Regions from separate parts of the Homo sapiens genome. Here all the other regions are linked to region 3. Evidence: fine-mapped expression QTL. A gene starts in region 3. Each other region holds a variant in brackets. All regions are shown on one strand. Distances are between the middles of the regions. Region 1 overlaps LOC105371097 (a long non-coding RNA gene). Region 2 overlaps MPV17L-BMERB1 (MPV17L-BMERB1 readthrough). Region 3 holds the start of BMERB1 (bMERB domain containing 1).

Region 1 (4,239 bases), 150 kb after region 3:
GAGGCACAAACGTTCATTTCATAGCACTTCCTTTTCCAAAAATGCTCCTTAATCCCTCCCTGCCATCCTTGCTATTCTCATTTGACAGATGAGGAAATTAAGACTCCACGATGTGCCTTAGGTTGCCCATAGCTGTACATCTTATAAGTGCGAGCTCCCCAGATAATTGCATTCATCCACAAGAGCAGAGTTAACTGCAGCATCATAGCCATCCAGGGAGCGTAATGCCCCGTTAAAAATAACAAAGCGTAGAGACCCAGCCTGAACTGAAGATGTGTCTGTGGTTGGGGTTCAGGGTTCTTTGATTTCCAGATCTACCACCCAGATATTTGTCAAGTTACATCTACTTCTGGTGCTCATTTCCACATCTCTAAAACAGAAATAATAACAGTGCCTTTTTGTTGCTGAGAGGATTTTGTGGCGTCATGCAGATGAAGTGGCTCTCAAGAGCCTGACTTAGTAAATGTTGGCTGTGTGTTGGGCATTATTAGCTAAGATGTACAAACAGCAGAGGTTTGGTTTGTATGAGTAGATCATATTCCTGCCTGTTGTCACTGAGGGAGAGCAGAGTCCTAAGGGGAGGGGACACAGGTCAGGAGAATTCTAGGGGGTGGGGGATGTTTCTGATTTCTCAACAATGGGTAAATCTGGGAATCTCATGAGAGCTTCAGTGGGTAAATCTTGGAATCTCGTGAGCAAAATGGGGACATGAAGAAGGAAGAAAAGCTGCTTGGAGGATTGGTGAAGGAGGAGGGAAAGGGAAAAAAAAAGGAAAAAACATTTAGGTGGTGCTAAGTGCCACGCATTTTCCATTTTTGCATCAGTGAATTGTAAAATCACACTGCAAGGCTGGGGATATTATCCCCATTTTACAGATGAGAGAGAGGAGGCTGGGCAAGTTAATGAACTGGTTCAAAGTATCACAGCTAGAGAGTTGGAGCCAAAGTGAGATCGCACCGCTACGCAGACTCTAAAGCCCTTGTCTGTATATTGAATCAAATTTCCCCTTTTGCTGGCTTAGGTAAACTGAGGCAGGAAGTGATGAGAAAGGGTTAAGAGACGTCGGCTGCTCCTTAAACATCTCCCTTCCCAGTGTCATTTGCCATCCATAAACTCTTTCAAAATGTGATAACGGTTTTGATTTTCCTGTCATCTCGATTTGATATGAGAAATTTGGGATTTCCAAATTGACAGAAAACTCGATTTTAAAGATGCTGGAAGGGAAACATCTGTGAAAAATCACAGGAATAATGTCAACATCTGTCCCTGTGAAAGGAAATTGCTGAGGTTCTCAATTTACAGCCAATCAATCAATCTTGGAGGCCAGGGTGCTTGCAAATTGAAATGCATGTTGAAGCTATAGGGATGGCTAATTAATTTAGTTTGTATGCCTATAAGATTTTTCATTGTTTCCTATTCAAAAAAATTCTCTTTTGAATAGGAAACGTGTGCATATGGTAAAAAAAAAAAATTAAACAGTACCAGAAAAAGTATACAGTGAAAATTAAGTTTGTTTTCCATCCCAACCACCAGTTCTTCTTCTCCAAGGTCAAAAGTGTTGCTGGCTTCTCTTGAAACTTTCCAGAGATACAATCTTTATATAGAAAAACATATGTATATATGTCTCCTCCCGGTTTTATAAATGATAGCCCATTGTACATATTACACTGCATCTTGACTTCATTCAACAATATATCTTTGAGGTTTTTGCATAGCAGTCCATATAGACATTCCTTATTCTTTTTATCAGCTGTGTAGTATTCCAGTATACGGATGTGTATAAATTAATCAGTTCCCTCATGGTGGACATTCAGGATATTTTCTGTCATTCTCCACAATTTATGCTAGTATGTCCATCTTGGTGTGTGTTCATCAGTAGGATACAAATCTAGAGGTGAGCCTCCTGGGCAGATGGGATGTGCATTTAAGGTATGATGCCTTCATGTAAAGGGAAGGTTTCCTTTTCTTTTTTCTTATTTTATTAAGAGACAGGGGTCTCACTATGTTGCCCAGGCTGGTCTTGAACTCCTGGGCTCTAGCAATCCTCCTGCCTCAGCCTTCCAAAATGCTGGGATTACAGACGTGGGCCACTGTGCCTGGCCAGGTTTTCTTTGTTATCTTGGAGGGAGCATCACCCCC[G/C]TCAAGGAGATCAGATTGGTGAAGGTGGGATGCTGTGTCTGAGAGCTTAATGACTGTTCACAGATATTGTGGCTGCCCTTCTCTAATGTACCTGCTTCTTCAGGCCCAAAAGGTGGAAATGATGTTTGTTTCTTACTTCTTTGGGGCTTTGACTGTGCCATTGAGATTTTGTGCTCAGGGATAAACTACCGTGTATTTACAGTTACCTCAACCTGTGAGGTTTGATGCCTCTTTCTTTCTTTCTTTCTTTCTTTCTTTCTTTCTTTCTTTCTTTCTTTCTTTCTTTCTTTCTTTCTTTCTGTCTCTCTCTGTCTTTTTTTCTTTCTTTCTTTCTTTCTTTCTTTCTTTCTTTCTTCCTTCCTTCCTTCCTTCCTTTCTTTCTTTCGTTCTTCTTTCTTTTTTCCTTCTTCTTTCTTTTTCTTTCTTTCCTCTTTCTCTCTCTCTTTCCCTCTCTCCCTTCCTTCCTTCCTCCATCCCTCCCTTCCTTTCTTGCTTTTTTTTTTTCTTGCTTTGTTACCCAGGCTGGAGTGCAGTGGCATGATCATAGCTCACTGCAGCCTTGAACTTCTGGGCTCAAGCAATCTTCCTGCCTTGGCCACCCTGGGATTACAGGTGTGAACCGTGGCGCCCAGCCTTGGCCACTTTCTTTATTCTAAACTTCTTTGTTCCATACTTTGCTTCTTTTCCCTGGATCCATCCCCACCAGCCTCCCTTGTCACTCCAGTGATAGGACACTCAGTCTTGCCAAGTCAATGTAAACCCAGACCCTTCTCATTTAAAACCTAGTCTCTTTGGTAAACAGTCAATTCAGGATCCTCACATCAATCTGAGTTTTAAATCTTAATTAGTTGAAAGATTTTCATATCTTTATCTTTCCACTTTGGTCACTGGCTTCGCTGTGGGTGCTGCACCACTCAGACCTCTGTGCAGGACCACCGAGGCCCTCTGTCCCCCCAGCTGCTGGGAGACCTAGCTGCTAACAGCTCATAGCAAAGTCCTGCCTCTGGCAAGAAGGCACCTGCAGGAAGCCACCTAGTGCTGGGAAATCCTCCTCCCCTCCTAGGCATCCCATAATCCTGGAGGGTTACAAAGGCTCTGTCCCTTGCCCCTCCGTATGGGAGTGTATTAGTCAGCGTTCTCTAGAGGGACAGAACTAATAGGATAGATGTATATAAAAAGCGGAGTTTATTAAGGAGTATTGACTCACACGATCACCAGGTGAGGTCTCACAGTAGGCCATCTCCAAGCTGAGGAGCAAGGAAGCCAGTCCAAATCCCAAAGCCTCAAAAGTAGGGACGCTAACAGTGCAGCCTTCAGTCTGTGGTCAAAAGTCCAAGAGTCCCAAAGCTGAAGAACTCAGAGTCCGACGTTCGAGGGCAGGAAGCATCCAGCACGAGAGAAAGATGAAGGCTGGAAGACTCAGCCAGTCAAGCCCTTCTATGCTGCTCTGCCTGCTTATATTCTACCTATGCTGGCAGCTGATTAGATGGTGCCCACCCAGATTGAGGGTGGGTCTGCTTTTCCTAGTCCACTGACTCAAATATTAATCTTTTTTGGCAACACCCTCACAGACACATCCAGAAACAATACTTTGTATCCTTCAATCCAATTAAGTTGACACTCAGTATTAACCATCACAGGGGGTGTCTCAGGGGTCCTGGCGACTGTTCCACAGTGCCACTCCCCTCTCTGCCCAATGCTGCTTCCTTGCTTTCCAGCAGGTGCTCCTCCCAGTAAACCCCCTGCACCCAGATCTCCATCCCACAGCTTGTCTCTCTAGAAACCTGACCTATGACAGGCTTATAAACACCACAACAGGGCATGGGTATGGGCCAGGAGAGCTACTCCTCTCATCTGCTGAGGGTCCTACCCCAGGACCCCTGGGGAGGGATGAGGTCCCTGTTGTTCATCTGGGTGATCATCTAACTCCTGATGAGCCCAGGAGTTAGAGACCGGCCTGGGCAACGAAGTGAGACCCCATCTCTCCAAAAAAAAAAAAAAAAAAAAGTCAAAAAATTAGCCAGATGTGGTGCATGCCCCCAGCTACTTGGGAGGCTGAGATGGGAGGATAGCATTAGCCCAGGAGGTTGAGGCTGCAGT
Region 2 (4,239 bases), 29 kb after region 3:
AGGTAGTATTATATTTCAGACTAAGCTGATTAACTTAGACTACTTAAGGCCTCTAGAGTGAGGGGGTTGGGGAGTTGTGGGGAAAAAAGCTATTAGGTAGAAGACATTCCTATATTAATTATATTTTTAACACCAGAATGAAAAGTCTACTAGAATCAGTACCAATTCTGGAAGACAGCGGCTTTGGAAATGACAGCATGTATATATGCATTGCAATTTCCTGGTTACCATGAACAAATGATGCAGGAATATATTTGTAAATACAGAATCATCAATGAATTCTTTTTTTTTAAATTAATTTTTTTTTTTCTGAGACATGGTATCTCTATGTTGCCCAGGCTGGTCTTGAACTCCCAGGCAAAAGCAGTAGTCCCACTGCAGCCTCCCAAAGTGCTGGGGTTATAGGCATGAGCCACCTCATCCTGCTGAATTATTTTATTTATTTATTTTGTTTGAGATGGAATCTCATTCTGTCGCTTAGTCTGGAGTGCAGTGGCAAGATCTTGGCTCACTGCAACATCTGCCTCCTAGGTTCAAGCAGTTCTCCTGCCTCAGCTTCCTGAGTAGCTGGGATCACAGGTGCCTGACACCATGCTCGGCTAATTTTTGTATTTTTAGTAGAGACAGGGTTTTACCATGTTGGCCAGGCTGGTCTTGAACTCCTGACCTCAGGTGATTTGCCTGCCTCGGCCTCCCAAAGTGGTAGGATTACAGGCATGAGCCACTGTGCCCAGCCTTGAATTGTTGAAACTATATACCAAACCATTGTTTATGGAATGATTTTCTAATAATATATTGAAACCATGTGATGCTATAGAACAAGTTTAGCTGAAATTTTCATATATTACAAAATATGTTAGATAGACATTTCACAAGCTTTATCCTACACAGTCCTATGAAAAAGTCATCATTATGATTTTTTAAAAAAAAGTCTTGGTATGTAAATTTATCTCAAAAAACAGCTAGAGGTTTTCAAAATAGTCCTTAAAAGTGGTATTACAGACTTATTTTCTTCTTTTTACTAATTTGTATTTTCTGAAGTTTCTAAAATGAACAATTGCAATAAAAGCTTTATAATATTTATGTTTATATTTAAAAGTAGATATTACATATAATGTGTGTATACATATACATATATACGTATATATACACATATATACGTATATGTGTATGTATATATATATATTTTTTGAGATGGAGTTTTGCTCTTGTTGCCCAGGCTGGAGTGCAATGGTGCGATCTTGGCTCACTGCAACCTCCACCTCCTGGGTTCAAGTGATTCTCCTGCCTCAGCCTCCGAGTAGCTGGGATTACAGGTGCACACGACCATGCCTGGCTAAATTTTGTATTTTTAGTAGAGACAAGGTTTCATGATATTGGCCAGGCTGGTCTCGAACTCCTGACCTCAGGTGATCTGCCCGCCTTGGCCTCCCAACGTGCTGGGATTACAGGCGTGAGCCACCATGCCCGGCCATAATGTATATTTTATATTTATTTATTTTTTTTGAGACGGAGTTTCGCTCTTGTTGTGCATCTCAAATTCCCGAGCTCAGGTGATCTGCCCACCTCAGCCTCCCAAAGTGCTGGGATTACAGGCGTGAGACACCGAGCCTGGCCCTTAATTGTTAAATATGCTTTAAATATAAAATATACCCCTGTAATCCCTGCACTTTGGGAGGCCAAGGCAGGCAGATCACCTGAAGTCGTGAGTTTGAGACCAGCCTGACCAACATGTAGAAACCCTGTGTCTACTAAAAATAAAAATTAGCAGGACGTGATTGCAGGAACCTGTAATCTCAGCTACTCAAGAGGCTGAGGCAGGAGAGTCGCTTGAATTCGGGAGGCAGAGGTTGCAGTGAGCTGAGACTGCACCATTGCACTCCAGCCTGGGCAACAGAACGAGACTCTGTCTCAAAAAAAAAAAAAAAATTAAAACTTTAGCAAAAATAATCAGAAGACTAAACTTATCCAAACATGGCTTTCCTTCTTTCTTTTTTTTTTTTTTCTTAATACAGACGAGGCCTCACTATGCGGGCCAGGTTGGTCTTGAATTCCTGACCCCAAACAATCCTCCAACCTCCGCCACCCAAAGGGTTAGGATTACAGGAGCCACTGTGCCTGGCCATGGCTTTATTTCTTATGGCTGTGTTTTTTTTCTTGTCAGAATGTAGTATCATGTAGTAGTATATTTTGTTCTCAAATCATTCCCCCACTAAAAGGAAGCAGGATGCCTCAAAGAATTGGCTGATTCTAGGGCCAGGGCAGGGCAGGTGCAAGTACAAGATGATCCTGGAACACGCTGTCATGCCAGAAAGGAAGTGGCTTAAGAAAGAAGTAAAGGAGAAAGAAGATGGGTGATGCACAGGACACAGGAACCAGCTTGGGGGAACTCCCACTGGCCGAATCTGGGACATGTGAGCGCTAAAAAT[A/G]ATTAAACCCTGCCATGAACTCTCCTCTGTGCTTCGGCAATCTCCCTCTGAATAGGCCAAAGGCATCTGACATTCAACATTTCCCAAGCTGAACTCACCTCATTTCTTTTTTGTTTGTTTGTTTGTTTTGAGATGGAGTCTTGCTCTGTCACCCAGGCTGGAGTGCAGTGGTGCAATCTCAGCTCACTACAATCTCCGTCTCCCGGGTTCAAGTGATTCTCCTGCCTCAGCCTCCCGAGTAGCTGGGATTACAGGCACTCACCACCATACCTGGCTAATTTTTTGTATTTTTAGTAGAGACAGGGTTTCACCATGTTGGTCAGGCTGGTCTCGAACTCCTGACCTCATATGATCTGCTCGCCTTGGCCTCCCAAAGTGGTGAGATTACAGGCGTGAGCCACCATGTTTATTTTTTTAAATACAGACAGGGTCTTGCTATGTTGCCCAAGCTGGTCTTGAACTCCTAACTTCAAGGGATCCTCCTGCTTCAGCCTCCCAAAGTGTTAGGATTACAGGCGTGAGCCACCACACCTGATATGCTTCCTTATTTCTTATGTGAACTTGGTCACGATAACCACCCACTTTGGTTTCCTTTGCTGCCATTACCTAACTGTGAAGTTCAAGATCCTCAGCTCTGGGTGTTCAACAGTCTCCAGGATCCAAACTCATTCCAAGTTGCTCAACAAATACTCTGTGAACACCAAACTGCCTGTGGTTTCTCCCCTCCAGGCATACCATGGTGCTTTACGCATTGTCAACTGTACTCAGCTCTTCTGCCCCTGGAATGACCTGTCCCCCAGTATGTGCATAACTTCAGATCTTTATTTTATTTTATTTTTTTATTTTGAGACAGGGTCTCACTGTGTTACCCAGGCTGGAGTGCAGTGGCACAATCGTAGCTTACTGCAGTCTCGACCTCCTGGGCTCATGCTAATTTTTGTATTTTTAGTAGAGAGGGGATTTCATCAAGTTGGCGAGGATGGGCTCGATCCCTTGACCTCATGATCCGCCTGCCTTGGCCTACCAAAGTGCTGTGATTACAGGCGTGAGCCATCCTGCCTCTTTAAAGGAAATCTTCCCAAAAAATCTCCAGATGGGCTGGGCTTCAGACTACTGGTTTGCCCTCTTTCTTCTCCTGAGGGTAGATGAGACTCACTCATTGTAACCAGTTTTTTTTTTTAAACAGTATGCAAATGTTCCTGTGGTTTTGTTCATTTACAAATCCCTGCCTGAAGCTTCTTTCCCAATTCTACTTCCTGCTCTCTTTTTTTTTTTTTTTGAACCATGGTCTCACTCTGTCACTCAGGCTGGTGTGCAGCGGTGCAATCACAGCTTACTGCAGCCTCGACCTCCCAGGCTTGCAATCCTCCCATCTCAGCCTCCCGAGCAGCTGGGACCACAGACACTTGCAACTATGCCCAGCTAATTTATTTTATTTTTGTAGCGATGGGGTCTCACTATGGTTGCGCAGGCTGGTCTCAAACTCCTGGGCTCTAGTGATCCTCCTGCCTTAGCCTCCCAAAGTGCTGGGATTACAGGTGTGAGCTGCCTACTTCTTGCTCTTTTTTTTTTTTTTTTTTTTGAGACGGAGTCTCGCTCTGTCGCCCAGGCTGGAGTGCAGTGGCGCAATCTCAGCTCACTACAGTCTCTGCCTCCCGGGTTCAAGTGATTCTCCTGCCTCAGCCTCCCAAGTAGCTGGGACTACAGGCTTGTGCCACCATGCCCTGCTAATTTGTTGTATTTTTAGTGGAGACACGGTTTCACCATGTTAGCCAGGATGGTCTCGATCTCCTGACCTTGTGATCTACCC
Region 3 (4,239 bases):
GATGGTTACCAGAGGCTGGGGAGGGTATTGGGATGGGGGGACACAGAGATGGTTAATGGGTACAAAAATATAGGTAGATAGAATGAATAAGATCTAGTATCTGATAGCACAACACGATGACTACAGTCAACAATTTATTGTACATTTAAAAATAACTAAAAGAGGGCAGGTGGGGTGCCTCACACCTGTAATCCCGGCACTTTGGGAGGCCAGGGCAGGCCGATCACCTGAGGTCAGGAGTTCGGGACCAGCCTGCCCAACATGGTGAAACCCCATCTCTACTAAAAATACAAAAGTTAGCCAGGCATGGTGGCGAGCACCTGTAATCTCAGCTACTCTGGAGGCTGAGGCAGGAGAATCGCTTGAACCCAGGAAGTGGAGGTCGCAGTGAGCCGAGATTGTGTCATTGCACTCCAGTCTGGGCAACAAGAGCGAAACTCCGTCTCAAAAAAAAAAAAAAAAAAGCTAAACTAAAAGAGTATAATTAGTCACACAGCTGGGCTTTTTTAAAAAAGGAGTGTAATTGGATTGTTTGTAACACAAAAAAAAGGATAAATGCTTGAGGTTTTGGATACCCCGTTTACCCTGATGTGATTATTACACATTGTATGCCTGTATCAAAATATCTCATGTATTCCATAAATATGGACACCCACTATGTGCACTTAAAAATTAAAGAAAGAAACAGAGACCCTCAGCCCTGACGCCCTGATATTATGCCAAAGCACCAAGTCATTGGGTCTTGAAAGGATGAACTAGAAAGAAAGACCAAGGTTAAAAAGGGAGAAAAAAAAAGAAAAGGAAAGAGGTTGGCAGTGCTATGACATCCATCCTAGCCCATGAACCACTAAGACATTGGATTGTGATTTCAACTTCAACCCGTCAGAATCAGAACACAGTTGAGCCCTTCTAGGAAGATTTTCTAAATCCATAATTACAGGTATAGAGAAAGAAAGCGCGCACACACAATTTTCCACCAGGTGAGGACAGAATAAGATCACATTCACAATACTTTAGCCCTACATCGCTCAGAGATCCGTGCTGGGGCAGAGCGCGGAGCAGTGACCCAGAGCCGAGGCAGGAAGCTGCCGGGTCCCTGAGAAGGACCTCTCCTTCCCAGCCTGGTGGGCAAGCCATGTGAGAGCAGCGGCTTTGGGGAGCCCCCGGGTTTGCAGGGACCTCCAGTGACCCTGGAGCCCCTGACGCTGCCTCTACACTTTGAGGGCAGGAGTTTCAACTATTGTATCCTATTAATGAAAAACAAAATCCTTCGTTTACTTAGAAATGTTGACATCCAAACACCGCAGAGAGAACCAGTAAATAAATACAGCCGGTCTATTTCGAAACTGCCTTCTAGAGTTGTGCCCAAGCAGACTTTAACTGAGTCAAGAGAGAAAAGAGAACGGTGTGTGCCTTTTGACCCTTTTGCCGCCCCAAGCCTCCCACCCCGACCCAAGGAAGGCGAGGGAGGAAAAGCTGGGAATTTCAGGTGCGCTCCGAAACCTCACGCAGGGGGTAGGAAAGCAAGCGGAAAACCAGCAGACACTCCCCCCTCTCCAGGGACGTGGGCGCTTTCCAGGACGGTCCCGCGTCTCCAGCGCCCTGGCGCATCCCAGGCGGAGAGAGGATCCTCCTCCCTGGGCTGTGGGAGAGACCCGACTTCACAGGACCAGCTGCGAGCTGACGGATCCGGGACTCCTAAGTCGAGCCCAGGCTCCTGCCTTAGCTGCCTGGCCATCTCCCAACCCTCCCAGTGAGGCTCAGCCCGGAGGGTCCCCCCCTTTTGTTCGCGGGGAGAGCGCGTCGCTGCGCAGAGCTGCGTATCCCCCTGAGCTGCCAGCCCCGCTGCGGGGGCGCTTCCCTGGGTCCACTGCTGGCGTTCCTCGCGCTCCCGCGACCACCCGCGCAGGCGCATGGATCCCCAGCTGTCCCCGGCCCCCCGCCCCCCGCCCCAGTACTCACTTCTCCCCAGTCTCTCCGTTTTCCAAGCCGTCTCCTCCACCGCCCCATAGCGCCTCAGAGGCTTCTCGGCTTCCAGATGGGTGGACAAAGATTGCTTTAATTCCATCGCTGATCCCCGTGGCCAGGTCGACGGGTCTCCCTTTACTCCATTCCCGTTGCGGGCTGCAGGGAGGGAGGTGGCTCCAGCCAGCAGCGTTTTAACGGGCCGGGCGCCCGTGACGCTGCTCCCTCTCCTCCGCCGCCGCCAGCGCCCGGGAGCGCCTACGGGTACCCAGAAGGGGCAGGGATGCACGGCACATGCGCAGTGGAGGCTTGGAGGGGAGGCTTGGGGGCTGGGTAGGGAGACAGAGGGGCAGGTGATAACTCTAAGAAAAACAACAAACAAAACAACTAAAATAAAAGCAACACAAAGGAAGTGAGAACAAGGCCCCTGCCTATTCTAGAGCCCCTAGTGATGCTTGGCATGGGGCTGGCACTGTGGGCGGCTTGCGAGCTGTAAGCCGGCAGCGGGTTTTGAGTGGGATTGGTGAGCCCGTCTCTACCTGCGGGCGATGCATCCGTCTTTCTGGGGAGCATGCAGAGGCGTGAGTGTGGACCTAGATCTATGGGTTCTGGGCTTGGCTGACTGCTTTTCTGTGAGAATATCTGTCGTGTGCGTCTGTTTAATTTGAAGTGCGACAGTGGATGCCTATGTCAGTTCCATATGTGTTTGCATGCACTTTGGGGAGAGAGAGAGAGAGATGAAAATATTTTGCACACAGGTATAGCAGAGCTGTTTGGAGCATGGGGCTTTACTTTCCAGAAACCCCAGAGGTTTATCTTTAAAAACAAACAAACAAACAAACAAAAAACACCATGGCAGTGCCTGGGCACGATGGCTCATGCCTGTAATCCCAGCACTTTGGGAGGCCGAGGTGGGTGGATCACTTGAGGCCAGGAGTTTGAGACTAGCCTGGCCAACATGGTGAAACCCCATCTTTACTGAAAATACAAAAATTAGCCAGCTGTGATGGCGCAGGCCTGTAATTCCAGCTACTCGGGAGGCTGAGGCAGGAGAATCGCTTGAACCTGGGAGGCAGAGGTTTCAGTCATCCGAGATCATGCCATTGCACTCCAGCCTGGGCAACAAGAGGAAAACTCCGTCTCAAAAAAAGAAAAGAAACGAAAAAAAGAAAATGATATCCCAGTAGGAAACAGGGAAAGAATATGAATAGTCATGTCATGTGGGCAGAGGAGGAAGGCCTAATGTGAGAAGCTGCTCAACCCCCTTAGTAATAAGGAAAATGAAAATGTAAATAAGAATATATCATCCGATAGGCAAAAACTAAAAAATCTAACAATCATGTGTTGTAAAAGATGTGGATTTTTTTTTTGAGACAGAGTCCAAAAATGCTGGGGTTACAGATGTGAGACACCATGCCTGGCATAATTTGAACTTTTATCTAATGCTAGTGGGAGTATAAATTGGTACAACTGTTTTTTTCTCTCTGTCACCCAGGCTGGAGTGCAGTGGCATAGTCTCGGCTCACTGAAACCTCCACCTCCTGGGTTCAAGCTCCTGAGTAGCTGCGACTACAGGCGTGCCACCATGCCCAGCTAATTTTTTGTATTTTTAATGGAGATGTGGTTTCACCATGTTGGCCAGGCTGGTCTCGAACTCCTGAGCTCAAGTGATCTGCCCGCCTTGGTCTCCCAAAGTGCTGAGACTACAGGAATGAGCCACTGTGCCTGGCTGCATGAATGTAATGTTTATTGTTCTCAGGTATATATGTATAACTCTACAAATTATATATAATAGCGCTATTTAACATTTTCTTATAATTTATACAAATGATATCATACTTTATAATTCTGCAAGTTGCTTTTTTCTGTTGTTGTTCCACAATATGCTTTTCTTCCTTTTAAAAAGATAGAGACAGGTTTTCACTGTGTTGCTCAGGCTGGTCTTGAATTCCTGGGCTCAAGTGATCCACCTGCCTCAGCCTGCCAAAGTGCTAGGATTACAGGCGTGAGCCACCGTGCCCGGCCCACATTATGCTTTTGAGAAATACGAATTCTGATTCATGTAACTCTGGTTCATAGTCTACTGTATAGTATTCTACATGAATGAACCATAATTGGTCTATTTTTTCATTGATGAGGTATAAAGATTATTCCCAATTGTCCACAATTACAAACATGGCAGCAGCAAATGTTTTTATACTCATTTCCCTGTACGACTGAATAGGAGTTTTTCTAGGGGGAAAAATTACAATGGCATGGGGTATGCACATCTGC

The links. PIP is the estimated chance that this variant, and not a neighbour inherited with it, causes the effect. A credible set is the group of variants that fine-mapping cannot tell apart.
Region 1: its variant is the best candidate, but not a certain one, in a credible set for the expression of BMERB1 in whole blood (TOPMed, PIP 0.58).
Region 2: its variant is the best candidate, but not a certain one, in a credible set for the expression of BMERB1 in skeletal muscle (GTEx, PIP 0.72).

What each region holds. Positions count from the first base shown.
Region 1 is chr16:15,283,967-15,288,205 of GRCh38, reverse strand. The region is part of intron 2 of LOC105371097 (a long non-coding RNA gene); the gene reads left to right. Among named protein-coding and RNA genes, the nearest start is that of NPIPA5, 92 kb to the left of the region's middle. The variant G/C (reference allele first, on the strand shown) is at 2,140.
Region 2 is chr16:15,403,141-15,407,379 of GRCh38, reverse strand. The region is part of intron 1 of MPV17L-BMERB1 (MPV17L-BMERB1 readthrough); the gene reads right to left. All of the region lies in intron 2 of MPV17L (MPV17 mitochondrial inner membrane protein like), which reads right to left. Among named protein-coding and RNA genes, the nearest start is that of MPV17L-BMERB1, 9.5 kb to the right of the region's middle. The variant A/G (reference allele first, on the strand shown) is at 2,430.
Region 3 is chr16:15,432,483-15,436,721 of GRCh38, reverse strand. BMERB1 (bMERB domain containing 1) reads right to left here and starts at 2,134. Exons shown (of 6, transcript NM_033201.3): 1 at 1,963-2,134. The coding sequence starts at 2,068. All of the region lies in intron 1 of MPV17L-BMERB1 (MPV17L-BMERB1 readthrough), which reads right to left. RefSeq lists an enhancer at 1,208-1,830.